4 linked regions of the Homo sapiens genome follow. The protein of the gene in region 3 interacts with the protein of the main gene of each other region in a pairwise test. Each region holds a gene or a part of one and is shown on either strand. Other genes may lie near its edges. The genes, in order: HOMEZ, MEOX1, NEIL2 and REL.

What was found.
Region 1: the proteins of NEIL2 (region 3) and HOMEZ interact in a two-hybrid assay, tested with the Homo sapiens proteins (one large-scale study listed by BioGRID).
Region 2: the proteins of NEIL2 (region 3) and MEOX1 interact in binary tests that used the Homo sapiens proteins (3 or more experiments, as listed by UniProt).
Region 4: the proteins of NEIL2 (region 3) and REL interact in binary tests that used the Homo sapiens proteins (3 or more experiments, as listed by UniProt).

Annotation. Positions count from the first base shown.
Region 1 is NC_000014.9:23,268,924-23,278,218, reverse strand, and holds the end of HOMEZ (homeobox and leucine zipper protein Homez), read left to right. Parts: intron 1-1,031; coding exon 1,032-2,644; 3' UTR 2,645-5,327; coding exon of another isoform or gene 5,328-5,396; 3' UTR 5,397-5,797; downstream 5,798-9,295. Other genes in the region: E3 ubiquitin-protein ligase RNF212B, read right to left, coding at 5,328-5,396, 7,558-7,619, 8,259-8,356, 9,256-9,295. UniProt on the Homo sapiens protein: May function as a transcriptional regulator.
Region 2 is NC_000017.11:43,637,340-43,644,940, reverse strand, and holds the end of MEOX1 (homeobox protein MOX-1), read left to right. Parts: intron 1-1,280; coding exon 1,281-1,453; coding exon of another isoform or gene 1,454-1,464; intron 1,465-2,908; coding exon 2,909-3,031; 3' UTR 3,032-4,552; downstream 4,553-7,601. UniProt on the Homo sapiens protein: Mesodermal transcription factor that plays a key role in somitogenesis and is specifically required for sclerotome development. Required for maintenance of the sclerotome polarity and formation of the cranio-cervical joints.
Region 3 is NC_000008.11:11,783,210-11,787,459, reverse strand, and holds the end of NEIL2 (endonuclease 8-like 2), read right to left. Parts: coding exon 4,061-4,250; intron 1,498-4,060; coding exon 1,187-1,497; 3' UTR 115-1,186; downstream 1-114. UniProt on the Homo sapiens protein: Involved in base excision repair of DNA damaged by oxidation or by mutagenic agents. Has DNA glycosylase activity towards 5-hydroxyuracil and other oxidized derivatives of cytosine with a preference for mismatched double-stranded DNA (DNA bubbles).
Region 4 is NC_000002.12:60,907,490-60,916,073, forward strand, and holds part of REL (proto-oncogene c-Rel), read left to right. Parts: intron 1-8,584. UniProt on the Homo sapiens protein: Proto-oncogene that may play a role in differentiation and lymphopoiesis.

The sequences.
Region 1 (9,295 bases), on a different chromosome or scaffold from region 3:
GCTGTATCAGAGCTATGATGGTGCCACTGCACTCCAGCCTGGGTGGCCTGGGTGACAGAGCAATATTATCTCTTTAAAAAAAAACAACCCACCAGCTGGGTGTGGTGACTCATGCCTGTAATTCCAGCTTTGGGAGGCCAGAGGCAGGTGGATCACGAGGTCAGGAGTTCAAGACCAGCCTGGCCAAGACGGTGAAACCCCATCTCTACTAAAAATACAAAAAGTAGCCGGGCGTGGTGGCGGGCACCTGTAATCCCAGCTACTCGGGAGGCTGAGGTAGAGAATTGCTTGAACCTGGGAGGTGGAGGTTGCAGTGAGCCAAGATCATGCCACTGCACTCCAGCCTGGGCGAGAGAGTGAGACTCCATCTCAAAACACACGCACACACACACAGACACACACATACACACTAAAAAAAGCTATATCAGGATCAGTTTTCCTTCTTAACTTCTAAAGACAGATTTTTTTTTTTTTTGATAGGGTCTCACTCTATCACCCAGGCTGGAGTGCAGTGGTGCAATCATAGCTCACTGCAGCCTCAACCTCTCAGGCTCAAGCAGTCCTCCTGCCTCAGCCTCCCAAGTAGTTGGGACGACAGGCACGAACCACCATGCCCAGCTGATTTTTAAATTTTTTGTAGTCTCACTGTGTTGCCCAGGCTGGTATCAAAGCTCTGGGCTCAAGCAATCCTCCCACCTCGGCCTCCCGAAGTGCTGGGATTACAGGCATGAGCCACCATGGCTGGCTTTAAAGACAGATTTTTTTCTTGGAACAACACTCACCAGTCATGTGGCTTGGGGTAATTTAACGTCTATGGACTTTGGTCCACAGAAAATGGGAATTAAAGCAGGGTCTGATGACTTAAGTTTATGAAAATTAAATAAGAAATTGTTGAGGCACTTAAAAAGCAATACAACATGATACAAATACAGATTAAATTGTTCTGGTGTCCAGCAGTTAGTTTGGTAGAAATTGAGCAGTGTGTCAGAAGAGGAGACCCAGTGATTGAGCTGTTTGTCTTCTTATTGCAGCTATCTCTGAAGGGCACAAATCAGAAGGCACCATGCCTCCTAATAAAGAGGCCAGCGGTCTCAGTAGTTCACCAGCGGGGCTCATCTGCCTCCCTCCAATCTCTGAGGAGCTACAGCTTGTGTGGACGCAAGCAGCCCAGACCAGTGAGCTAGACAGCAATGAACACCTGCTCAAAACCTTCAGCTACTTTCCCTATCCCAGCCTAGCAGACATTGCCCTTCTCTGCCTACGTTATGGGTTGCAGATGGAGAAAGTCAAGACTTGGTTTATGGCCCAGCGCCTCCGCTGTGGTATTAGCTGGTCATCTGAAGAAATAGAAGAGACTCGAGCCCGAGTAGTCTACCGTCGGGACCAACTCCATTTCAAATCCCTTCTCTCTTTTACTCATCATGCGGGACGGCCCCCAGAGGAGGTGCCTCCTCCTCCAGTGCCAGCTCCAGAGCAAGTTGGTATTGGAATAGGTCCTCCAACTCTTAGCAAGCCTACCCAGACGAAAGGATTGAAGGTAGAGCCTGAGGAGCCCTCTCAGATGCCACCACTGCCACAGAGTCACCAGAAATTAAAGGAGTCCCTGATGACACCTGGCAGTGGAGCATTCCCCTACCAATCAGATTTTTGGCAACATCTTCAAAGCAGTGGCCTCTCAAAGGAGCAGGCAGGCAGGGGTCCCAACCAGTCACATGGCATAGGTACTGCTTCCTGGAACCACTCCACAACCGTCCCCCAGCCACAAGCTCGGGATAAACCCCCACCAATTGCATTAATTGCCAGTAGTTGTAAGGAGGAGTCAGCATCTAGTGTTACTCCCTCTTCTTCCTCTACCTCTTCTTCTTTCCAGGTACTGGCTAATGGAGCTACTGCCGCCTCTAAACCCCTCCAGCCACTAGGCTGTGTCCCACAGTCAGTGTCACCCAGTGAACAGGCATTACCCCCACATCTGGAACCAGCCTGGCCCCAAGGGCTACGGCATAACTCAGTACCAGGTAGAGTTGGCCCCACAGAGTACCTTTCCCCAGATATGCAACGCCAGCGAAAGACCAAGCGCAAAACCAAAGAGCAGCTGGCTATCCTTAAATCCTTTTTTTTACAGTGCCAGTGGGCACGGCGTGAGGATTACCAAAAGTTAGAACAGATCACTGGTTTACCTCGGCCTGAGATCATTCAGTGGTTTGGTGACACACGCTATGCCTTGAAGCATGGGCAACTAAAGTGGTTTCGGGACAACGCAGTACCTGGTGCCCCTAGTTTCCAAGACCCAGCAATTCCTACACCACCACCATCAACCCGCTCCTTGAACGAAAGGGCTGAGACACCACCTCTGCCGATCCCTCCACCCCCACCGGATATACAACCCTTGGAGAGGTACTGGGCAGCCCACCAACAGCTACGGGAAACTGATATCCCTCAATTGAGTCAGGCATCAAGGCTTAGCACCCAGCAGGTGCTGGATTGGTTTGACTCTCGATTACCTCAGCCAGCTGAGGTGGTAGTTTGTCTAGATGAAGAAGAGGAAGAGGAGGAGGAAGAACTGCCAGAAGATGATGAGGAAGAGGAGGAGGAGGAGGAGGAAGATGATGATGATGATGATGATGATGTGATCATACAAGACTGAGTGGGGAGCTGGGGGAGGGGAGGTCTGTTACTGAAAGATGAACCAACTTAGTAACTGTTTAAACAAAGAAACCACATTTTTAAAATTACCTTGTGGCAGAGAACTAAAAAGCTTTGTGTTCTTCAGGGTGGGTGGCAGGGGGATATAGTGAGGGTGGACCAGGGAGAATGACCATAGGGCACTAAGTAAGGCTGGGATTGGATCAGCAGAAATCCAACCCTCTAACCTTAGGGTAGGGAGTGCTAAGGATCTGGGGAAACCATGGGCTGGGAAGCTGCTCTTGCTCTCCTCGTGTCTGCTGTTTTTTTCCCTTGGTGTACTATACAGAGGCCAGATGTTGGCACCACCTCTCCAGGAGGATTGGAAAGGAGGAGTAAAGGATTCTGATTTGATTGATGATTCCAGTGCATCCCCAATCCCACCATCTTACCTGGAATATAAGGCTGCCTTGTACCCCTTTTCTGAGCACAAGTCTGTGCGTAATGCAACTGACTCTCTTACTTTTTTCTTAGTAACTGATCATTTCCTAGACAACCAAGATTCTCAATAAGTCCCAGTCTCATCACAAATATTAATATTTCCTTTTCCTCATACCAACTTGACTATGTTTCACCCGCTTCATGACTAAATCACAGGTGGCAGAATTTTTCAGTTCTTTTTTTTTTTTTTGAGGTGGAGTCTTGCTCTGTCGCCCAGGCTGTAGTGCAATGGCGCAATCTCAGCTCACTGCAAGCTCCGCCTCCCAGGTTCATGCCATTCTCCTGCCTCAGCCTCCCGAGTAGCTGGGACTACAGGCACCTGCCACCACACCCGGCTACTTTTTTATATTTTTAGTAGAGACGGGTTTCATCATGTTAGCCAGGATGGTCTTGATCTCCTGACCTCATGATCCGCCCACCTTGGCCTCCCAAAGTGCTGGGATTATAGGCATGAGCCACCGTGCCCGGCTATTTTCAGTTCTTATGCTGTGACCACTTTGCCTTGTAGCTTTTTCTATCTTTCCAAAATCCTCACTCTGTTCATTGTTTGTCTCAGGGAAAATCTTCCCCCACCGAGCTTGTAAAAAACTTTAATAATTGGGTGGAGAATAATTTAGAATGGATATTTATTGGAGGTGGTAATTAGGGAAGATGTCCTTTTAAACAGTAGAATTGTGTTACAAAGGGGTGAAAGAGAGGGAATAGTTTCTCCTTGTTGAAGGGCAGTGAAGGTAGGTTTCAGGTTTGGTTTTACAAACCTGTTAACTACCTCCTGTCCAGCTTGACAGAGACTAATTTTTCATCTTTTTGCTGTCAATTTGTTTCCAGAAAAGAGACTTTTCCCTCTCTTGATAGGATCTGTCTTAGGGACAGAGGGACCATCGTCTTTAAGTGAATTAATTATTGATGTTTTAGAATGGTTTTCATCAGTTGGGATCAGCTATATGGCAAATAGGTATCATCAATGAGTTAACCATCTAAAAATAAAAGAGTGGAAGCCCTAAAATGCTAGAATAATAATAAAAAGGCCAAAAATAAAATTGTTTCTCTCTCAACCACTTTGCCACTCCTATGGTTTAGGGATTAATGGAACCAAATCCATTAACATTCTAACTCAGCATACTTTTAACTTATTGTTTGGAGGGGCAGGACTTATTGAGGTAAATTAAAAGAACAAAAACTGTAAAAAGGAAGTAGTTCAGCATCTATCGCCAGCCAGGTTGTTTCTCAGCCATCAAATGATAATGACTAAAATTTCTGAGGCTTCAGGAGTAACAGAGATACAACAGTCTTGGAGGTAACTCCATTTGCTACAGGACAGGCCCTTGCCTAAAAGAGAAGGTATCTAGAAATGCCTTTAAAATAAATTCAGAGTACCAGAAAGGGTATGGGGATCCTAGTTCAGATACAAGATCATTCCCAAGACCTAATTTATTTCTGGCAGATGCCTGCTATTTTCTGTTTTTCCAGTATTTTTGCTTAAGGCCAGCTTGTGAGTGGCTAACCTATTTAATTCGTCATTTCTGCCTTTTAAAACCCAAAGTAGAATACATGTTTGATCTCAGTGATAGTGTTGTTCGCCCATTCCACCATTCTAGAGCTTGTAAAAGTGATAGAATTGTAGCAATAAAAGGGCATCGTCTTTATTTTACTATCTATATACTAAGCTGAAAATCAGTGTCTCCAACAGTTGTTTTCAATAGAAAGGAAAATTAACATTTAATAGTAACTAAGCATAGAGGAAATAATAGACAAATAAAAAAGTATAATAAGGAAAAGAACAGAGATATTGCTCGTTAACATTGGCAATGGGACAGTATATCCAAAGCTAAAAATGAAATCCAGAAATGAAACAGTGATGAGTATATGATCCATCACAATCCCCATTCCCAACTCCCAACCAAGCATGATGCCAAGAATTATTTTTTTGACCTTTGTTCCAAATTGTAGGAAATGAGGGGAGCTACCAGTGTCTTCTGGAAGAGATATAAACATCTTCCTGAAGCACTAGCCTTTTGTAAGACCTGACCACTGTCCTGGGAGGTGATAAGGGTGAATAGGGTAAAGATGGGGGGAGCATAAGGTACAGAGTGAAACTAGGAAACAATGCAGGGATACATTTTCCAGGGCCATCACCCCTAATGCGTACTGGAAGCTACAGTCCATCCTTCAGCAGCATGTATAGATCAGATCTTGAAGATGATCTATCTAGAAGTGGTCCATGCTTCTCTCCCACTGGGTAATCCCATATGCCTCCGTTGTTGGTAGAGAGTCTGCAGCAGAGGACAAGAAGGTAGATGTGGGTGTTTATAACAGCAAAAAGGGCAAGCAAGTCTCTCTGACCTGTTGTATGAAGCTTATCGAGACAGACACCACTGCTTTTGCTTCCCCATAGTTTTCTTCATTGCATGATAACTAACTTTTCCAAACTAGGATTTGCTACATCTAGTGTGACAATCTCTGGAACATTTCAGTAGCTTATGGTGATAATAATAAGGATGAATATTTGAAAATTAAACTATTTTGGAAAATCTGGGACATATGACTACCACACCCAGAGATGACTACCAGGGAGGCAGAGTTCTTAGGCCTCTGAGGAGGTGGCATTTCCTTCAATAACTTTAAAATTTTTTCACATTTTCGGTTGTTTGTTTGTTTGTTTGTTTGTTGTTTTTTTGAGATGGAGTCTCGCTCTGTCACCCAGGCTGGAGTGCAGTGGTGCATCTCCGCTTACTGCAAGCTCCGCCTCCCGGGTTCACGCCATTCTCCTGCCTCAGCCTCCCACGTAGCTGGGACTACAGGCGCCCGCCACCATGCCCGGCTAATTTTTTGTACTTTTTTTAGTATAGACGGGGTTTCACCATGTTAGCCAGGATGGTCTCGATCTCCTGACCTCATAATCCGCCCGCCTCGGCCTCCCAAAGTGCTGGGATTACAGGCATGAGCCACCACGCCTGGCCCACATTTTCAAAAAATACATAGAATAGTATAATGAACTCATGTGCCCATTGTCCATCTTTAACAAATAATTAATGGCCAATCTTTTATTTCTACTCTCCCAGTGTCCCTCCCTACTAAATTACACTGATGCAAACGCCAGACATCATTTGACTTTCCATCCATAAATACTTTAGTATGTACCTATAAAAGAGAAAGGCTATTTTTAAAAACATAACTACGATATCATCATACCAAAAAACTCTCCAATGTTAACAATTATTTAATATCAAATGTCCAATAGATAATTTTGTTCAACTGTCTCATGAATTGTTTTATTTATTTTTTTTACAGCTTGTTTCAGTCAAGATCCAATTAGGGGCCATATATTTGTAGACGGTTTATAGAGCTTTTAAGTCTTTTTTCATCTTAGGTTAATCCCTCCATTTGAGGATTTTAGGGAGGAATGTTACTTCCCCAGTGTTGCCTCTTAAGGCTTAGACCCTAATTTCTTACTGATGAAAATAAAGGGCATCTTGGAATATGGGAGCAAAATATATACTTATCTTAGTATGAAGGAACTGTGCCTAGGGACACCAGGAGCTTGGAGTGAAAAAGGAGCCTAAATATGCTCAAAACCCAAGCCATTAAAAAAAACAAACAAAAAAAGGCAAGACTGGACTTTTATTTTTTTCTTTCTTTTTCTTTTTTTTTTTGAGATGGAGTCTCACTCTGCTGCCCAGGCTGGAGTGCAGTGGCGCAATCTCGGCTCACTGCAAGCTCCGCCTCCTGGGTTCAAGCAATTCTCCTGTCTCAGCCTCTCATGTAGCTGAGATTACAGGCACCCGCCACCACACCTGGCTAATTTTTGTATTTTCAGTAGAGAGAGACGGGGTTTTACCATATTGGTCAGGCTGGTCTCTAACTCCTGACCTCAGGTTATCCACCTGCCTCGGCCTCCCAAAGTGCTGGGATTACTGGCATGTACCACCGCCCCCGGTGACTTTTCATTTAATAGAACTCTTTACAAACCTCTCCTTGTTACCATGCCCTTTACCTTTTGTTGCTGGAATCAGAATCATAGTCCCATAAATTTATAAAATATTATTCTAGCGGTCTCTGGAGAAGTAAATGTGGTTTTTCCTAGTTCAAGTAGTACCCCTACCCAAAAGATGTATTTCATAGAAAATACTTTCTTGTGGAACTACTGAAGATGTCCATGTGTCCACACTTACTTCACGCTGGCCAAGACCTCTCAGTTTAAAGCCTCCCACTACCATGTGACCTCATTTTAAAACCCCAAACCAGGAAGCTAATCTAACAGTAGGATAAAATCTGAAATTGAGACCATTCTGGAAGATTGTGAACATATAGTTACCAGAGTTGAAACCCATGTCGTTCTTCACTGGTTATATTCCACTACCCTGAGGCATTTAGTGTGCAGGCCTAACCATGTGAGATTTTATGCACAGACAAGTTAGACTAGCCAGGTCTCACCTGCAGGACTGGTAGCTGGAAACTAGGAAGACTCTCTAGTGTAGTTGTGCTCTCCCTCTGAGCTGAAGGATAGAATGGAACAGTGAAAGATAACTTACTTGGGCAGTTTCTCGGCAGTGTTACTTGTGGGTCAGGGTAATGAGGTAGTTCTTAAAGGAACACTACTCAGAAGGGAAACACAATCAGCAATTTAAGAGATGGGATATAAAGTCTGTTCTTTTCCTGTGAGGACCAGGTACTGGCAGAGAGGTCTGAGATTTAACTATGAGTGGGAAAATAGCCAATATAAATATTTAGGTGAGCTATGGAAGATGGCAGCCTCTTAGCAAGAGGACTGGTGGTACCACCTTTACTGAAAAAGATGGGGAGAAGAATGGATATTGGCCTTATAATCCTCAGAACTGAGCGCCCAGCATTTTCAATATAGGGACTTTTGAGAAGCCAGTTTAATCCTATAGGCCAACCTTCTGGCTAAATAGTAGGACTCGACTGGTGACAGGATGAGTGCTAACCAGGCAAAATCCAGAGTTTCCCTTCACTCTGAAGAAAATGGGATGGCTCTTAAAGAATATTAAGGAGCCAACTAGAGACAATGCTCTTTGGGGGGCAAACCTCAACATCTTGTCATCTTGAAAATCTTCATTTTAGTATATGTGTCTATAGTTGAAGCTCCATTCCTTTGGAAATGTTATTTAACTTACCAAAATTGTTGGGGGTGAGGACTCTTGTGTGGCCTGAATGCCCATTTGGGGATGGTCTGAAAGAAAAAATCCCCTGTCCAGAGGAGGCAGATGAAGTTCTAAGGAAAGCAAATAAAAGCATCAGCAGAGAAAAGGACAGGTAAAGGTAAAAATAAAAAGCATATGTAATGGAAGAGCCTATACAGCTAGGCCAGAGAGGAAAAAATTCCCTGCTTGCAACTGATGATAATTTTTTCTTTTTTTTTTTTTGAGACAGGGTCTCACTCTGTTGCCCAGGTTGGAGTGCAGTAGTATGATCATGGCTCACTGCAGCCTTGACTTCCTAAACTCAAGTGATCCTCCTGTCTTAGTCTCCCAAGTAGCTGGGACCACAAGCATACACCCACCAAGCCCGGGTAATTAGGTCTCACTTTGTTGCTCAGCCTGGTCTCCAACACCTGGGCTTAAGCAATCCTCCCACCTTAGCCTCCCGAAGTGCTAGGATTACAGGTGGGAGCCACTACCGGGCCAAAATACAGTAATTTGGATGTATATTAAACACAGTGCTATCCAGCTTTCTTTTTTGCTTATAAGGCACATTGTAAACTTCGGTGGTACAAGCCAGTGGAGAAGTAATCCCAGGACTGCTGGCAGAGTTTTGTTTTTTTGTTTGTTTTTTGAGACGGAGTCTCACTCTGTCACCCAGGCTGGAGGGCAGTGACACCATGTCAGCTCACTGCAACCTCCGCCTCCTGGATTCAGCAATTCTCCTGCCTCAACCTCCCGAGTAGCTGGGATTACAGGCACGTGACACCGCTCCCGGCTAATTTTTTATTTTTAGTAGAGACAGGGTTTCGCCATGTTGGCCATACTGGTCTCAAACTCCTGACCTCAAGTGATCCACCCTCCTCGGCCTCCCAAAGTGCTGGGATTACAGGCGTGAGCCACCGCACCCAGCCTGCTGGCAGAGTTTAAGTATGAACACATCCCAAGAAAAAGGAAGCATAGTGTTACTGACCTATAAGATAGGCTATGAGTTGAAGCCGGTGAAGGGGTTT
Region 2 (7,601 bases), on a different chromosome or scaffold from region 3:
TAAGCCCTTCCTAAATTTTTTTTTCAAGACGTAGTCTTGCTCTGTCGCCCAGGCTGGAGTGCAATGGCGTGATCTCCGCTCACTGTAGCCTCCGCCTCCTGGGTTCAAGCGATTCTCCTGCCTCAGCCTCCCAAGTAGTTGGGATTACAGGGGCGTGCCACCGCGCCCAGCTAATTTTTTGTATTTTTAGTAGAGACGGGGGTTTCGCCATGTTGGCCAGGCTGGTCTCGAGCTCCTGACCTCGTGATCCGCCCGCCTTGGCCTCCCAAAGTGCTGGGATGAGCCACCGCGCCTGGCCCCTACATACTTTTCATTTGAACAGTATGTGTGTGTCAAATCGCCTGAATTTAATTCTTGTCTCCCACACCCCCTGGCTGAATAAACTTGGGCAATTTGCTTAACTTCTCTGTGTTCGTTTTCTGGTCCATAAAGTGATACTAATACTAGAACCACTTGGTTGGGCTATTGAGGAATAAGAGGCTAATATATGTCAGGTACAGCACCTGGCACAGAGTGTGTCCCCTGACCCTGTTGGCAGTTATGACTGAGCCCCGCTGAATCTAACATGCAGCCTGCTTCAGAGGGCTCCAGATGGCTTTCCAGACTTGGCCCTCTGGGGCAGATTCTGATTCCGTAGGTAGGTCTGGGGCAGGCCTGAGATCCTTCAGGTCTGAACAGCTCCCTGGTGCTACTGATGCTGCTGGCACCCAGGCACTCCTTTGAGTGGTGAGGTCTTAGAGCAGCGGACTTGACTGTGCACCAGACGCATCTGGAGGGTTTGTAAAAATAGATTGCTGAGTGCCATCCCCAGAGTTTCTGACTTAGTAGGTCTGGAATGAGGCTAGGATTTGCATTTGTAACAAGCTCTCAGGTAATGCTGATGCTGCTGATCTGGGGACCATAGTTTGAGGCTTTGTTTTAGAGCATCTCACCCCTCAAGCTTATGGCCACCAGTAATGTCATGCTGGGGGGTGGGCTGGGGAGTAGAGGTCATTAAACAGCCAAGAGTAGCTTCTTATGCTTTGGGAATAAAAGAAAGTTTGGGGTGGGGGGAGGGTGGGAGGCAGGTACCTGAGATTGGAAACCAAAAATAAAAAATCTTCCCAATTCTAATATGGGTAAGACACCAGAAGGAATAAAAAGGACAGTGTAGCTTTTTTCTCAGCATCCTGTAAAAATAAGGGAGACTGGTAAAGACTGCCTAGTTGCTCAAGGGCAAAAGAAAGGGAATGGAGTCTCCCTCAGCCCATGTCTTCCTGTTTGGGGTCCTCTCTCCCCAGACAACCAGGAGAACAGAGGGAAGCCGGAGGGCAGCAGCAAAGCCCGCAAGGAGAGGACGGCCTTCACCAAGGAGCAGCTGCGAGAGCTGGAGGCAGAGTTTGCCCATCATAACTACCTGACTCGGCTCCGCAGATATGAGATTGCGGTAAACCTGGACCTCTCTGAGCGCCAGGTGCGCCCCCGGTGGGCCCCTCCTCTTCTTTGCTCTCTCATCTCCCTCCCTTCCCTCCTTTCCCACCACCCCTCCCTGGACCTTCTCCTTTTTCTTCCTCCAGCCAGTCCAGCGGTTTTCAACTGTGGCCACACCTGAGAATAGCCTGGGGAGTTTTGGGTTTTTTTGTTTTTTGTTTTTTGAGACGGAGTCTCGTTCTGTCGCCCAGGCTGGAGTGCAGTGGCGCGATCTTACTGTAACCTCCACCTCCTGGGTTCAAGCAATTCTCCTGCCTTAGCCTCCCAAGTAGCTGGGCTACTGGCGTGCGCCACCACGCCCGGCTAATTTTTGTTTTTTTTTTTAGTAGAGGCGGGGTTTCACCATGTTGGCCAGGATGGTCTCAAACTCCTGACCTCAGGTGATCCGCCCGCCTCGGCCTCCCAAAGTGCTGGGATTACAGGCGTGAGCCACTGCGCCCGGCCCCTGGGGAGATTTTAATAGTGCTGATGTCTGGGCTCCACCCCTAGGGATGATTTTAATTGGCCTAGGATGGGATACAGGCCTCAGAATTTTTCAAAGGCCCCCTAGGTGATTCTCACATGCAGCTAGGTTGGGACCTACGGTCTGGCTATTCCCAAATTTGAGTATATGTTGGAATCCCCCAAGGCACTTGTTCAAAATGTGGATTCTGGAGGTCCGGAGAGAGATTTTACCATAATGAGTGGGCCTGAGAATCTGTATTTCTAGTACATTCTCCAGGTGATCTGGATATGCAGCTGGTTCCTGGGCACACTTTGAGAAAAACTTCCCTGGCCCTTTGTTTTGGACTTTCCCTTCAGCCACCCCACACCCCCACACCCATGCTCTGATACGGAATAATAGTAATAATAACCGTAATATTTGATAGCAGATTTCAGTTGACAGAGCACTCTGCCAGAGGGCTGGATATTGAATCAGAAGACTTAGATTCAAATCCTGCCTCTATCACTTTTCCTAGCCCTGGGACCTCTGGGTCTCCATCTGTAAAATGGGATCATAATCCTGCAGGTAATACTCAAGCTCAGATGAGAAAATGTGCTTACCAGAGCTATCTAAACCAAAAAGTGCTCTATAAATGTGCCTAAGGATAAGGCTGATGACCTCTGCTCCCAGACCCTTGGGGAATGGAGGTAGGGGGCAGGGGGACCTGGCACAGGCAGGGCAGGGCATGTGAAGGGGGTGGGGCCAATGCAGAGTGCTTTTAGAACATGTTCCCCCGTCTGGGGCTTTATCCGAAGCCACAAGACAGACCTCTGGGCAGATTGGTATGTCCTCTCTTCGGTCCTAGTTCCTGGGGCCTTTGAGGGAGTAGGGAGTGGTAAGTGATGGTTTCAAGCTGGGGTCCCTGGAGTTACACCCTGGCTAGCCTAAGCATTGACATGGGGAGGAGGTCACACCGGCCCTGGAGTGACCAGGCTCCTTTGCTTCCTCCCCCAGGTCAAAGTGTGGTTCCAGAACCGAAGGATGAAGTGGAAGCGTGTGAAGGGAGGTCAGCCCATCTCCCCCAATGGGCAGGACCCTGAGGATGGGGACTCCACAGCCTCTCCAAGTTCAGAGTGAGATTCTGCATGGAGGAAAAATGACTAAGGACTGAGCCCCCTACCCAACTACCCCCACCCCAATCCCACCTTCACCCTCTTCCTTCCCCAGCCAGGGCAGCCTCTCCACATCTTTCCCTGACTCTTGGATATGAAACTGCCCAGCATTCCTGGGAGTCTTAGGATTTTCTAGGAAGTTCTGTCCAGCCTCTTAGCAGCCTCTTCCCTAGGGCCTTTGCTCCCACACTCTCATGGAATCAGACAGAGATCCTACCGGGCCGGATGAATCTGGAAACAGCTTCAGAGATACTGCTTCTCAGCGTCTCTTGGCTGCCACCCATGCCTCCTCCTACCGCTGTTCTCCTAGGTCAGCCAGGCCTCCTCCTGGTCTGGACACCACCTGGCCTGGTGGGAGAGGAGCTTTGGAACCAGCTGGCGACTCGGAAAGTAAATGCTTCAAAAGGAAGGAAATGACAGAGACACACGCCCTTGCCCACCTTCCTCTGTAGGCTGCACATCTGAGGCTTTGGGGCCCCTTAGTTGTCCCGAAACCCCAAGAAAAATCAGAATGAGGAGAGTCAAGGACAGCAACTCAGCTGCTGCAAGCCAGAAACACATCCCTGTCTCCAAATTTGTTGGCTAAGTGGAGACACTTCTGAGAACTGACTAGAGAAGACAGAAAAATAGCCCGATGTAGGTTTCGGTGTCCCCATATAGGCCCGTCCACACAGGCTTGACTGGGTGGACAAGAATGAACCCATGACAGCACCTGCTGCTTCAAAATCAAAATCAATTTAGGGATACAGCAGGGGCTGTTGGGCTGTGCTCCAGAGAAAAGGAGCAGCTACTCCTTTTAAATCCACGATTTCTGGATTGAAAACCTGTCCAGATGCTGAGTTGTTGGGCTGAACAACTAGGAGCTGAAAACAACGTAGAGGCTGGAAAGTGTCCCCTGCATTCTGGAGGGGAGGGGAGATAATAAGGAGGGCTGCTGGGTGAGGGCCTGGAGATGTGGAACCCTGGAGTGGAAGGTTCTCCAGTGACAGTGTCCTGTGACTGCAAAAGGGGACAAGAAAATCCCTCTTCCTCCATGGGATGGATTTAAGCTCTTGCTGTGTGTTCTACAAATGCTGTTATTGTGGGAGGAAATGCTAGGTTTTTGTGTGTGGACTGCCCAGACCTCAGCCAGGTCTTCTGGAGATGACATTTGAGGACTGATGGCCAAAGAGCATGGGGGACTGAAGCCCTGGCTGCCTCAGCGCTCTGTCTCCCAACACCAGCTGGTGTTGCAGAGGGAGGTCAACGTGAGTTTGGATCTCTTGTACGCAGATGTAATCATTCACATGTAAAAATAACCCCACCTCCCCACCCCAAAAAGGGCAAGAGCTGTGGAAAATGATTGCCAAATGAGATGGCTGGTTAGAGCATGATTTTTTCTAAAGCATACTTCATATATTTTCTTAAGATTACATCAAGCTAATTGTGCGAGCTCAATTCACTTTGTAAGAAAACTCTCGGAGAAATAAAATCAATAAAAAGCAAAGTTCCCAGGCCTTTTTCTTTGCAGAGCGAACAACCACAGCTCTTGTGTGCAACCTTCTGATTGACCAGACAATGTCTAGAAGCAAGAGAAAAAGGGAAGAAATGATCTAGACAGAGCTGTCCCCCTTTAGTTTTTCAAAAGGTGGGTACAAAATATAATTGGTGCCAAAAAAAAATTTTTCTCCAATGCAAATGCATGGTCTTCATTTCTCATTGTAAAAGTTTAGCTTTCAGTTTCCCTAAACTATGACCTATCAAATAGTCAATGTTTTATAAACAAAAGATGAACTCTTTTGTTAATAAAGGAATCTTGACCACAAAGTAACCATCCCTAATGTTTAAATTCAAAGTTTGGAGATTTTATTTTTCAAGGTAGAAAAATGTATATTAATAGTAGTAAAAAATGACATAAGAAAAAATATCCCATATTTTGTCTTTTTTTTTTTTTTTTTTTTGAGACAGAGTTTCGCTCTTGTTGCCCAGGCTGGAGAGCAATGTCTTGGCTCACTGCAACCTCCACCTCTTGGGTTCTCCTGCCTCAGCCTCCTGAGTAGCTGGGATTACGGCCATGTGCCACCACGCCCAGCTAATTTTTGTATTTTTAGTAGAGATGGGGTTTCTCCATGTTGGCCAGGCTGGTCTCCAGCTCCTGACCTCAGGTGATCCACCCGCTTTGGCCTCCCAAAGAGCTGAGGTTACAGGCCTGAGCCACCACGCCTGGCCTCTATGTCTTTTTAACTAAAAAACAATTTGTCTCACCAAGATGTCAACAATGGACAAAACAGGACTGGCTACGGTGAGGGGAGAGAGGGAGGCAGGAGGGGAGACCTGGCCAGGATCTTGCAATGAGGCAGCCTGGGCCAGGTGTGGGCAGTGCCTGGAAGTGACATCACCAGGACCTGGAATCAGGCAGACCCACCAAAATGAAGGTGCCAAATGGAAGTGGGTTCAGTGGCTCAGGTTCAGGTTCACAGCCAAGCAACATGGACACGCTCAGTCACCCCCGTCCACCCTCCTGCTGGAAACTCAACTCTGTGGCTTCAGGGGACATCACCCTCTTCTGGCTTTCCTCATCTGTCCTAGATGTTCCTTCTCTGTCCCCCATGCAAGCCCCTTTCTCGATGCTTCTGCTCTCACAGCTGGTTCTCAAGGTTTTCTCTTTCTTCCGCCACCTTCCCTATTTTTCAATCTCTCCCCAGATGATCCCATCCACCTACTTTTTTTGTTTGTTTGTTTTTTGGGACAGTCTCGCTCTGTCGCCCAGGCTGGAGTGCAGTGGCGTGATCTTGGCTCACCACAAACTCTGCCTCCCGGGTTCAAGCGATTCTCCTGCCTCAGCCTCCTGAGTAGCTGGGATATGGCTAATTTTTGTATTTTTAGTAGAGATGGGGTTTCACCATGTTGGCCAGGTTGGTCTCAAACTCCTGACCTCAGGTGATCCTCCCGCCTCAGCCTCCCAAAGCGCTGGGATTACAGGCATGAGCCACCACGCCCGGCCTATGTTTTTTTAAATTGTTGTAAAATACTCTAACATAAAATAAAAGTTATCATTTTAACCGTTTTGAAGTGCACGGTCCCGTGGCATTAAACATTTTCTCATTGTTGTGCAGCCATTGCCACTATCCATCTCCAGAACGTTTTCATCTTCCCAAACTGAGACCCTTTGCCTATGGAACACTAACCCCTATCCCCTCCCCTTCATTCACCTGCATTTACATAGTGTTTGCGCCATATTGAGCACTGTTCCGCTTTACATGTACAAACTAAGTGAATTCTCTTAGCCATCCTAAGAGGTAGTACTACCGTCATTCCCATTTCACACATGAGGTAACCAAGGCGGAGAGAAGCTGAGTAAACTCCCAAGGTTTTATGGTGGTTAGTGTTTGGGGTGGATTGTATTATTGGGCCTGGTTATCTTCTTCCCTCTCCACTGGGGAACATGCCTCCCTGATCATTGCCATATGATGCACCTGCCGCGGTAAGGGCACACTTCCTCACCTAATTGACATCAGCTTGTCCTTGTGGCCTGCTTTGGCCAATAGAATGTGAGCAGAAGGATATGTGCTGTATCCAAGCAGAAGCTTTACGGGTCATCACACGGCTGTACTCCTGCTCTTTTCCCTCTGTACGAGGCTGAAATGGAGGATCCCTAGGTTCCAGAAGGAGAAAAACATGGAACAAAGCCAAAGCTGACCCCATAGCCTTCACAGATGTCAGTGAGGATATAAACATTTGTTGCTGTAAGCCACTGGGATTTGTGGGTCACGAGCTCGTGAAAACTGACCACTCCAGTGATGAAGCTGGGTTTGGAATTGACGCATTCTGGCCCCAGGCCAACACTTCCTATGCCTGATCTGGGTGCCTAAGCTTTTCTATTCTGCTGCCTACTGCCCTTTGCCACCTAGGATGACTATAAGCATCTCAAACTCCGATATCTGAAGGGGAAATCGCCATTCCCGCAGTTGGGTGAGCACCACTGCCTGCATTCTGATTCTTCTACTTTAGCTGGCAACACCACAACCTACCTGTTCATTCACACTGGAAACCTGGGGCACATCGTCATACAGACCTCTGCTTTTCCGAACCAATCCACTACCTGGGCCTGCTCATTTTACTTCCCACATAGATACTTCTCCCACCCACGGCATTGTCTTCCCACCACCACTGCCTTCCTTCTGGCTGCTGATGTCTCACTTGAATTAGAGCCTCTGAGAGCTCTCCCTCCTGATCTGAGGCTGCTCAAATCCCATCCCCTCTCAGCCTGTAGAGTGATCACAAAAAAAAATTCAACCCTGTCACCCCCAATTTAAAACCTATCGGTAGCTTTCCTCACCTACAAAATAAAGAGCCTTCACAGGTCTCCATGATCCAGCCCCTGACCACCTCCACAGCCGCAACCTACCACCTCCGCCACAAATCCTGGGCTCTAGCAAGACCAAGCCACCTTCCATTCCACAGCCATAGGCCATGTGATTTCTCCATTCCTTGGCTCATTCCCTTCTGTCTGGAGTGCTCTCCCACACCTGGAGCCCCAAGGACTTATGGATTCT
Region 3 (4,250 bases):
CTCTCACTGCTACTTTTATGTAGATTCCTCAGCTAACCCAGTAAGCCCTGGAGGCCACCTCCATGAATAGTTGGGTATTTAAAGACCTTTTACTACCAAATAAAGACAAAAACAGCGAGTAACAGTGAGCTTTATTTTCATGTCACCGCTCTAGGTTCATTCACCTGTTGCCAACAACATGAGGGAGTTTCTCCACAGCCCTTGATTCCTGAATTGTTCAACAAATCAACAGTCACCAATACATTGACTTAAGGAGTAAACAAGCAGCTTTTCTCTACACACCACCGGGCACCCCAGGAAGGCGCAGCTCCCTGCTCCACGACCGCCTCTTGGTGCCTGTATCCAGCAGAAGGACCCAGCAGGAGGCTGAATCCAAGCACTGCTCTCAGGCCACTCTATCCTCATCCCTGGATCCTCCAGGGAACAAGATAAAAAAAAAAAAATCCTGTTTTCCTGCTTTCCAAAATGGAGGGCCTTAACATCAACCAAAGTTACAAAACAAAAACAAAACACAGGAGCTAGCTGGGCGCGGTGGCTCACACCCGTGGTCCCAACATTTTGGGAGACCAAGGTGGGAGGAATGCTTGAGTTGTAGGAGTTCAAACCAGCCTGGCAAATATGGCAAGACCCCATCTCTCTAAAAAGTAAACAAAAATCAGCCGAGCATCATATCACATGCCTGTAGTCCCAGCTACTCTGGAGGCTGAGATGAAGACTGCTTGAGCCAGGGAGGGCAAGGCTGCCGTGAGCCAAGATCACACCACCACACCCTAGCCAGGGAGACAGAGCAAGACTCTCTCTCAAAACAAACAACCAAAAAAAAAAAAAAAACCCACATCATCTGCAAAGCTATGTTGGGAGCACAGCCATTTCCCATAGGCTTTCTTTTTCCTTGCCCCATTGCCTTCCGGGAAGTTTTCCCCTTACCCATCATCACGATTTTTCCCATCTTTCACGATGGTGCAATTCAACAGGATGAATTAACTGAACTAGAAAAGGATAAAAAAAATCTAACCCTATGAAAACTCTGCCTTCAACATAACTCCAGGGAGACGAATATTATACTACTGGCACCTCTGACCCACACTATCCTCTGTACCCCGTCCCTGCCCACATCCTCCTTTCTGGACACTTAGACGTCAGGTTCCCCAAGCGGCAAGGTTCCGTGAGGAGCACCACCAGCTCCTTAGGAGAACTGGCACTGCTCTGGCTCCTCTGACAACTGGGGCTGGCACTGCGGGCACCACCAGGTGAGCCTCTGTAACCCATCTTCGGGCCCAAACGCCTCCTTCATGACCTGGTGGCCAGCAGGGCACTGTTCTTTCTGGTAGACCTGTGTGTGCTGCGGTCTGCCTTGGAACTTGCCCTGCAGCCAGGCTGTACTGAACTCCACCACGTGATCCACCAGGACCTCCCGACGCGAGGCACTCAGGACTGAACCGAGAGAAAGGGGATGGATCCCAGCTCTGTACAAGGCTTCATTCTTAATGATGTTCCCTGAAATAAAGCGGGGGAAGGTAAGGGAAGGACAAAGGACACATGGCATGATGAAACCACCCACAAAGTTAACAAGGCAGAAATCAGCTCTTCCATGTCCTGGGGGACCCTAGACGGGTCTGCGATCTCTGACTCCATTTCTCTGTCTGTAAAATGGAGTTGACAATTCCTACCTTTAAGGTTGCTGTGAAGATGAAATGAAACTCATGCATGGCCCGTCATGGCAAACAGGCTATCAAAAACGGATCGGGCATCTGACTGCCTGCACTTGAATCGCAGCTCAAGCAGATCCTACCCACGTGACCCTGACAAGCTCCTCAGCCTCAATTAGCTGCAGTTTCCTTATCTGTAAGGCAGGGATGGCTTACCTGGTTTTTGTGAGCATTAAATGAGAATTCACCAAAAGACGCTGAGCACAGTGGCTGGTATGTAGAGTACTCAATAAGTATTAACTGTTGTTATTATTTAAAATGTTGGCCTGGCGCATTCCTGTAATCCCAGCACTTTAGGAGGCAGAGGCGGGTGAATCACTTGAGGCCAGGAGTTCAAGATCAGCCTGGACAACATGGTGAAACCCCATCTCTACCAAAAATACAAAAATTAGCCAGGCATGGTGGCACCTGCCTGTAATCGCAGCTACTCAGGTGGCTGAGGTAGGAGACTAGCTTAAACCTGGGAGGTGGGGCTTGCAGTAATCTGAGATTGTGCCACTGCACTCCAGCCTGGGCAACATGGCAAGACCCTGTCTCAAAAAAAATTTTTTTTTAAATTAAAAACAAAATGTCAAGCATAGCTAGGCACAGTGGCACACGCCTGTAATCCCAGCACTTTGGGAGGCAGAGGCAGGAGGATCATTTAAGCCCACAAGTTCAAGACCAGCCTGGGCAACACAGTGAGAGCTTCTTGTCTCTACAAAAATTTTAAAAATTAGTGAGGCGTGATGTCATGCACCTGTAGTCTCACCTACTCAGGAGGCTAAGGTGGGAGGATCGCTTGAGCCACAGAGGTTGAGGCTGCAGTGGGTTGTGATTGTGCCACTGCACTCTGGCCTGGGTGACAGAGAGAGACCCTGTGTCAAAAAATAAAATAAATGAAATACCAAGCATAATGCTTGTTATGTAGAAAGTGTTTCGGGAGCTGTTATCTTATTATTTTTCTACTCCTGCCTCATTCTCTGTGAAGCCAGCCTCGATCCCTCCTTCCAGAATCAGTAACTCTCTTGGGAATGTTCCAACCATACTCTTTCAGCTCCACCAGGCATTCATTGCAATCTTTAGTAACCCACAGTGGACTGAGTCCATGCTTGCTGGGCCATTATACAATGATCTCCTTAAGGAGAGGTGGTGAGCGTGACAGAGCTCAAGTGAGTGTCTGTGTGTTTGGAGTGAGTGGGTGAAGGAAATTCCTGCTGTTTCCAAGAGCCTCATAGTCACACTCCTCATTACACACATCAGTCTCTCCAGAATTCATTGACAAAACACCTGGATTCACATCTCAGCTGCACCATTTACTAGCGATGTGTTCTCTGCTTCAGTTTCCTCATCTGAAGGAAGGGAAAAGCACTATAACCATCCTACAGGACAGCAGTAAGGACAAGAACATGTGCCTGGCACATCAGAGCTGCTTGGAAAACACTGGCCGTTATTAATTACTACTGTTACTGTTAGCTCTTGCCATATATACCCAAAAAGCCACTTCCGACGGCTCTTCGCTCCTGAGTGCACAGGGACTCCCATGGTCCTAACATGAAAATGCAAGGCAAGTGCCTGCTGTACCACCTGGCCTCCTCCGACCCTCGTGAAGGGTGGTGAGCAGGCAGCAAGGCCACATGTTGGATATGGAGATGACTCTGTCACCACCAACCTGCCTGATTGCTTCAGCAACCAATTTTGGGCACAATTATTCCCCTACTGTGAGTAATAAGAACGCCACGCTGTCATAGTCCCGCTAATTAGCTGTTATATGTATTTTTGAAATTGTTCAGCACTTCTCCCTATCCTGAAATGCTCACAGTTTCACTGCTCACGCCACTGCAATAGAGAGAGGGAAACAGCTTCTTCACTCGCGTCGCATAAGAACCCAGTGTAGACTGAGTCATCTCTGTGCCCTGGCCAGGGCAGGAAGCTCCATCCACCCAAGAGCAGCATCCCTTAGAACACGCGCTCACTGCTCTGTTAGCAGCCTGCACGACTTCAGTTCCTACAGACACAGGTCAGGCACCTCCTACGTGCAGGCGCTGCACTGTGCAGTGGAGGGTACAGAGGTGCCGGAGACATGACCCCACCCTTTAGGAGGTGATGCTCCAACGCTGCTGGCAGAGGGCTCACAACTGATAACACAGTTAGGGTGTGGATTCTGAAGCAGAGAGACAAGTTAAAAACTGCCTGATCTAATGCCCTCAGTCTAAAAACAAGGGAAGTAAAAGAAAGGAGATTGAGCAAGTGGCACCTCAAAACCAACAGCACTGGCACAACTAGGGTGGCCCTCAGGTCTTCTGACTCCCACAGGACCGACTTTTCCATGAAGCAACTCTGTGGACTCACCCCTTTCCCATGAGTCATACCTAGCCCTGAGAAGTATCTCTGGTCCAGCAGTGTATAGCAGACAGGCTGAGCCTGGCCTAGAGCTTCTAAGGCTTGTCCTCGATGGAACTTCTCAGACAGGATGTCACAGGTGGGTGTGACCACTGGGGAAGAGCTCCAAGACAACTGACAATTATAAAATGCCAGGAAGCCACCACCACCAAAGTGCAG
Region 4 (8,584 bases), on a different chromosome or scaffold from region 3:
GCTGGGCATGGGTGCGTGCTGCAAGTCCCAGCCTGCTCCAGAGGCTGAGGTAGGAGGATCACTTGAGCCTATCAGGCTGGGTTGCAGTGAGCCCAGATTGTGCCACTGCACTTCAGCCTGGGTGACAGTGAGACCCCGTATCAAAAAAACAAACAAACTAAAACGGTTGAAAGAATAAATGGACGAACATGTCATATTTGTACTTTTCTTTTTTTTTTTTTTACGGAGTCTCGCTCTGTTGCCCAGGCTGGAGTGCAGTGGTGTGATCTCGGCTCACTGCAAGCTCTGTCTCCCAGGTTCACACCATTCTCCTGCCTCAGCCTCCCGAGTAGCTAGGACTACAGGTGCCCGCCACCATGCCCAGCTAATTTTTTTGTATTTTTTAGTAGAGACAGGGTTCCACCGTGTTAGCCAGGATGGCCTCGGTCTCCTGATCTCGTGTTCCGTCCACCTCGGCCTCCCAAAGTGCTGGGATTACAGGCTTGAGCCACCACGCCCCGCCTTATTTGTACTTTTCTACCAAAAATATCACAGTTGTTTTCCTTACCTGAGATGCCCTGAAAGCCTTCTCAGTTCTCTTAAGTCTGAGATAACATCTTCCTAATTATACGGTATACTCAGCAATTAATCATTGAAAGTTTTGTGTTATCTGTTAGATCATTTGATTCTTCAGGAATTTTCTTAAAATATTAATTTCATGCTACTTGTGGACAGGGTCTGTGATGGAATCTTGTTTCCATTTCACTTTGGCACCTAAACAATGTATTTGTTTTACTGTTATCTCTATCTTCTCAGCTAAGTGCCTTGAGCTATTGAGTTTCCTACCTGCACACAATAGATTCCCCAACTAGTGTGTTTTAAGGCCGGCCTTTATCTTTCTTGCCATTTGTTCTTTAAAACTAAGAAACAGTCTCTAGCAAACGGGGCATAAAGCAGTCTAATACTGTCAAATTTGAGGCTTCAAGTAAAGGATTATTCAAATTGTCTAATTGCCAAAGTCTAAATTGGGTGAGGAATTTAATTAGGGACTCCAATATCAGATTTTAACAGTGTTTACTTAGCTAGAACAAGAGTGGCAGTTAGACTTTGTAGAGGACTCTTAACTGCAAAAGCTGAAAAAAATTTGTAATTATATATCATTTTCTAGTTATGTACTTTGGTAATGAAATGTTAGGATTTCTAGTATGCGGCAGTTAAACTCCATAGAATATCTAAACTGTATATTAAATTTTGTGCAATAAAATTGATTTTGACAATAAAGAATTTGCAATTAAGTTTTATTAGGTAGTTTACTGTTTTCCCATGTAGAGAATCTTGAGTTGTTATGAGAGTAAAAGGCTGCTATACAGTTGAGTTTGGGAAAACTACATTACTTAGTAGTCTGAAAGGGAATACAGTTTAATAAGTAGTCTAACATAGATTCTTATCTCTAAAGTCTGGTCTAATACAAGAAAAAGCCTTTCCTTACAACTGAAAACTTAAAGTTTGAAAAAATGGCTCATGTGTACTTCATTGTCCTTTCTTTATTGCAGTCAGAGTTTTCGAAGCCTTTTTTTCATTACCCTAGGCAGAACTTGTGTACTTTCTTGCTTTCAGTATTCCTTGAGCATATTTCCATTATAAAGTTTTTCATGTTGTATTATATAATTTTAGTTTATGTATCTATTTCTCATCCAGATACTCATCTCACTAAGGTCAGGCATTGTCTTTTCAAATTTGTATCTAACACTTTACTATGGTAGCACATAATAGATACTCAATAAGTATGTTGAAAGGTTGAGTAAATTAATGATATACTTCTAGTATACTTCTAGCACCTTTACTGTTTGCCTGGCACATGAACACTTAAATGTCAACTTTTATTATTATACATAGGGGATACTTTATATACTTTTTAAGTAACAAAAATGTAAATTAATTATAACTAAATTTTATATTTTTCCTTAAGTGAGACTTAGTTCATTTTTTTTTTTTCTATTATTTGTAGAGACAGGGTCTCCGTATGTTGCCCAGGCTGGTCTTGAACTCCTGGGCTTAAGTGATCCTCCTGCCTCGGTTTCCAAAAGTGCTGAGATTACAGGCATGAGCCACCATGCCCGACTGAGACATAGTTCTTAAAATTGTTATTCCAGGCTGGGCGCAGTGGCTCACGCCTGTAATCCCAGCACTTTGGGAGGCCGAGATGGGCGGATCACGAGGTCAAGAGATACAGACCATCCTGGCCAACATAATGAAACCCTATCTCTACTAAAAATACAAAAATTAGCTGGGCATGGTGGCGTGCACCTCTAGTCCTAGCTACTTGGGAGGCTGAGGCAGGAGGAGAATCAGTTGAACCAGGAGGCGGGGGTTGCAGTCAGCTGAGATGGCGCCACTGCACTCCAGCCTGGCGACAGAGCAAGACTCCATCTCAAAAAAAATAAAATTATTATTCCATATGCTGTGTATTTTTGCCTTGTTATTTATTTTTATTTCAGTAGTGTTTGACAGTATTAGAATTTTAGAAATGTTACACTTCTAGAGCTAGTAGACATAATTGATTTTTAAAATTTAATTCCTGCTTATGAAAAATATAGCATGATAATATCTTCTTGGTTAAGAATGAAATTCTCATTACACACCTACTGATTTTAGGGTTAAAGGAGTGATATTTCTTTCTAAAGGTAGATTAAACATTTAACATAAAAAGGAAGGGGCTGGGCACGGTGGCTCACACCTGTAATCCCAGCACTTTGGGAGGCTGAGGTGCGCAGATCACGAGTTCAGGAGATCAAGACCATCCTGGCTAACAGGGTGAAACTCCGTCTCTACTAAAAATACAAAAAATTAGCCGGGCATGGTGGCGGGCGCCTGTAGTCCCAGCTACTCGGGAGGCTGAGACGGGAGAATGGCGTGAACCCGGGAGGCGGAGCTTGCAGGGAGCCAAGCTCACATCACTGCACTCCAGCCTGGGTGACAGAGTGAGACTCCATCTCAAAAAAAAAACAAAAAACAAAAAAAAAAAAAACATAAAAAGGAAGGAGAACAGGAGAACAGTTATTACCTTATATTTTGACTAACTACAAAGTGAAATTTTAAACTAGTTTAAGAGGAATTTGAGAGAAGTCGATTGGTCTCATGCTTCCTTCCGTTAGTTTCTGCAAATGTTAAAACTGAGTATCAGGCCAGGCACGGCCACTCACACCTGTAATCCCAACACTGGGGGCCCAAGGTGGGTGGATCACTTGAGGTCAGGAGTTCCAGACCACCTTGGCCAACATGGTGAAACCCCGTCTCTACTAAAAATACAAAACTTAGCCAGGCATGGTGGTGCATGCCTGTAATCCTAGCTGCTTGGGAGGCTGAGGCGTTAGAATCTCTTGAACCCTGGAGGCAGAGGCTGCAGTGAGCCAAGATCACAACACTGCACTCTAACCTGGGCGACAGAGTGAGACTCTGTCTCAAACAAAACAAACAAAACTGAGTATCAATTTTGACATTACAGAATAAAACACTGCATTTTGTATTATAGAATGATATGTATCTATTAAAATGCCTACAGCAAGCATTATCCTAAATAAGAGAAATATCAGAAACATTCGCTTTGAAGTTAAGAATGAGAAACCAAGGCACACTTTTACCACTTGTATTCAACATCGTAGTGAAGGTCATAGCCAGAGCAGTGAGCATTGTAGCCAGTGTACAGTAAGACCCCCCAAAAAGTAGAGGCATAGGATTGAAAAATGAGGAAATAAAACTATAATTATTTGAAATTATTATAGTGATAACCCAAAAGATATATAAATGGATTATTTAGATAAGTTTAAAAGAGTGAGCTTTGTGCATTGGCAGTATAGCCAAGTGAGGTTTATCTTAGGAGTGGTTATTGTTAATTGAAAACTTTTTCCTAATATCCTGCTGTCATGACTTGCAGTATAGTCAGCATTGGCAATTTTTGACAGTCTTTTTGGAGACTGAATAAAAAATAAAGTTTAAAAGGGTTAGTGGATGTAAAATTAATATATAAAGGTCAGTCATATTTCCATATCTCAGCAGCAAATAACTGGAAAACATCATTAAAACAAATATTGTCAGGAGATATGAAGTATGTAGAAACAAATCAAAGAAATGATAAGATTTCTTTAGGGAAAATTATAAAATTTTATTATGAGATCTTAGAGAATACTTAAATAAATGGAGAGGTATTCCGTGTTCTCTAATAGTAATATTGTAAAAATGTCATTTTCCCAGGCCGGGCGTGGTAGCTCACACCTGTAATCCCAGCACTTTGGGAGGCCGAGGCGGGCGGATCACAAGGTCAAGAGGTTGAGACCATCCTGGCCAAGATGATGAAACCCCATCTCTACTTAAAATACAAAATTAGCTGGGCGTGGTGGCACAGGCCTGTAGTCCCAGCTACTCGGGAGGCTGAGGCAGGAGAATCACTTGAACCCGGGAGGCGGAGGTTGCAGTGAGCTGAGATCGTGCCACTGCACTCCAGCCTGGGCAAAGAGCAAGACTGTCTCAAAAAAAAAAAAAAAAAAAAAAAAAGTCATTTTCCCCCAATTGATAAGTAGATTCAATGCAACTCCATATTAAATGTGATAATTCTAAACAGGAACAGAATATAGAAAAAGAACAATGAGGAGAAATTGACCTCATCAGATAGAAGTATTAATACTAATTAAGGCAGTGTCATATTGGGATAAGAATAGATAGATTGACTCATTGGAGTAGAATTGAGAGCCCAGAAGAGACTCCAATCACCTGTGACCCTGAACTGGAATAATTGGGTAAATCATTATCTTAACTTGTTTTTATTAATCTTTCTTAAATGTATGTATAGCTCAGATTTATTTCAATATTTAATATTGCAAGCGTTTTGGTCTTATAAATTTAGTGATGTTTTTGTGACCCATAGTCTGCCGTAGAAACTTAACTCTTATTAATATTGATTAGCCTATGGTAAAATTGGTTTTATTATGGTGTTGTTTCGCTTGAAGTTGCAATTTCCAAGAACCTATAGACATCATCCTAGAAGACATTAAGTGAAGACTTACTGTGTATATAAGCAGATTTGAAATTAAAAATATAAAAGATCTTCTGAAGTTGCAACAGTGCTCAGAAGTATTATAAAATAGAAATAAATCATTTCCAAAAGAGAGATTTCATTTTTGCCCAAAATCTTTCTTCTAAGCTATAAAAGACAAAACTGTTCAATACACAGTTTTGTCAATTTAAATCTACATATTCACCCAATTTTTATAAGATAAAATAAAAATGTATAATTATTGAAAAAAGAATTGAGAGCCCAGAAACAGAGCTAAGGAAATATGCGACTTTAGTGTATGACAGAGGTGGCATGTCATATCAAGAGGAAAGGAGGAAATGTTTGAGAAATGAAGCTTGAAAAAAAAATAGTTATTTAATTAAGTCGGATTCCCTACCTCACATCATATACAAATATCAGCTGAAGATGGATTAAAGGCTTTAAAAGTGAATCAACATTTTAAAAACTTTTGGTAGACTATGTTGGTAAACATTTTAATCCTTGAGGTATAAAAAGACAAGACACAAAGTGTTTTCTATAAAACTTTTGATAAATTTGATTATATTCTTAATTTCAATTTATTATATTTTTCAGTTCTAGAATTTGATTCCTTTTTTTCAGTTTCAAGTTCTCCAGTAAACTCTCAATCTTAATTCCTTGAATATATTAAGTATAGTTACTTTAAATTATATGTCTGAAAACTTCATTATTTGGATCCTTTGTGGTATGTTTTTATTGCCTGTTGCTTTCTTTTAAAAAAAAATTTTTTATTTTGCCTCCTCATATGTGTGGTTATTTAAGATAAAATACCAGTCATTTTCTGTGAAAAAGAGTAAAGATTTTAGGCCTACAATATTATCTCCCTGCAGAAAATTTTCTTCTGGCTAGTGGCCGGGTACACTAGCAATCCCAGGTCACCTAAAATCAGTGAATGATTTAGGTTATTTGAAGTTGGGCTTTCATCCCTGAAATCTGATATGTTTCCAGTTCACCCTTACTCCTAGGGTATAGCTCTTTCAGACCTCAAATCCCCCAAAGCCTTGGGTATTTATCAGATCCCACATCCTTGGCAAACTCTCAACTCCTTTATTTTTTCCCTATAGTTTATTGAGAGTTCATCTCAATCTTCTTAACCATCTCTTAGAAAATTGTCAGGCTATATTCAGATAAAAGTGGCCTCTCATTCTGAACTGTGGGTTTTCTTCTCTCATATCTTGGTCGCATGGTTTTTCATGACCTTGTTAGCTCTCTAATGTCATTAGAGAAATTTTGTTTCATATTTTGTCCACTTTATTCTCATGGTTGAATTGGTCCAGTTTACAGATTATCATCTATCATTACCAAAGTAGAACTTCTTTTTATTAACGTTTACTTTATGCTTTCTTCAGTAACTTGTAAAAGTATCTAAATGTTTGGTTGTTCAATAGGACTTTAAGTAATTCTTCAGTCATTTATGTTAATTGAGAAAATGTATAATAAATATCACTACTAGGTTCAACACCTAGTGGAGATACATCAGACATCCCTTCTGACTTCATTTGAAACTTTGTCTAATAGGATAGAAGAGGCATACATAAATGATTATCATGTAAGATTTTAAAACTTTTAAGGGCATAAGAAAGGTATAGGTCAAGTCTTGCACTGATTTAGAGAGGAGAAATATTCCCTCCATTGCAGAGGATGAAGTTAGGCTTTATAGAAAAGAAGCTTTGAGCTGGGGTTTCAGCCTTACACTGAATCTTGCATTGGGTAAAAACGGGTATCTGTCATGATTCTTGCCTGTCAGTAGTTTTTAACCATGTTGTGCAGAGATGAAAGTAATTCTGATGCAGTAGTAATTGTATTTCCACACATTGAGAAGATTCAAAGCAAAATCTCATAAACAGTGATTTTTTTTGAGAAGTAAGTAGAATTTCTTCCCTGTAGTAGAACTATTATGTGACTAAATGTTTTTGAACTTTGGCTTATTGACCAGTTTGTTTATTTTTCTTTTATGTGCCATTTAAAAATATTTAAAATAAACTTTTATTGAGATACAATAAAATCTACCCGAATATGTCCTGCTACATAACCACAATCAAGCTATGGAACATTTCCATCACCCCCTAAAATTTCCCTGGTCCCCTTCTCGCTCAGTTCCCTACCCTGCCTCTGCCTCAGGCAATTACTAATCTGCCTTCTGTCACTGGAGATTAATCTTTTCTAAAACTGCATGTAAATGGAAGCATACAGTATACTTTTGTATCTGGTTTCTTTTGCTCAACATGGTTTTGAGATACATTCATTTGGGAGTGTATACCCATAGCTTGTTTTTTTGTTTTTTTTTTTTTTTTGAGATGGAGTCTTGCTCTGTCGCCCAGGCTGGAGTGCAGTGGCACAATTTCGGCTCACTGCAAGCTCTGCCTCTCGGGTTCACCATTCTCCTGCCTCAGCCTCCCAAGTAGCTGGGATTATAGGCGCCCGCCACCACGCCTGGCTAATTTTTTGTATTTTTAGTAGAGGCGGGGTTTCACCGTGTTAGCCAGGATGGTCTCGATCTCCCAACCTCATGATCCACCCACCTCGGCCTCCCAAAGTGCTGGGATTACAGGTGTGAGCCACCACGCCTGGCCAGTTTGTTCTCTTTTATTGCTGAGTTTATTCCATTGTAGGTCTATACCACACTTTGTTTATCCATTCACAGAGTTCACATAGGTTTGTTTTTAAACTTACCAGGAACATCTAGCTACAAATTTATCTTTTTTGCATATTGATTACTCATCTTTGCAATTGAGAGACACTAATATCTTGAATGCTACATTTATAATGCTGTAAAAATGGATTTTGAAGAGGTAGCTCTCATATTGCCTACACAATAGTGCCAGTAGAGTATGCTGCTGTAACACAAGTGTTGGTATCATAACATTTTGACCTTTCAGTTGTACAGAGTACAGATGTGTTTTTATGCACTGTTTCAAAGATTAAGCATAAGAATGCTAATACTGGGATACTTATAAATGTTGTGATAGCTAAGTAGACTCTCAATGTCATTAAATAAAAACAGTACAAAATACATTATCAGTTTTATTAGTTATTGCCTGTAAAATAAGGAATTTGGGCTTAACTATGTTTCTAAATTTAGTGTTTCAAAATTTAATACTTTGCAAAGTAAAATTGTTATGTAAATAATGTGCATGTCTTGCTTTTTAAAAATATGACTTATTGCTATAGCTTATGGCATTTGAAAAGGCAATATTTTCTTTTGGAACTGGATTTCTGGTTCAAATACTAATTTAACAAACTATTATACTATATTCTATCATGAGCTTTTCTAGTTTTATAGAACTGTAAAATTTTTAATTAAAACATTTTTTAAGTTTGCACGTAAAATTTCTTATGGAAACTAGCTATCTTAACATTTTTTTGTTTCTTGGTATTTCATCCTTAAAATGTTGATCCACATTTAGTAGATACTCTTGTGTATGTCATTTTTATGTACAACACATGTACAATTTTCTAATAGATTTCAATTTTTAAAAGCATAGGCTCTAAATTTAATGACTTGAGTTCACATTT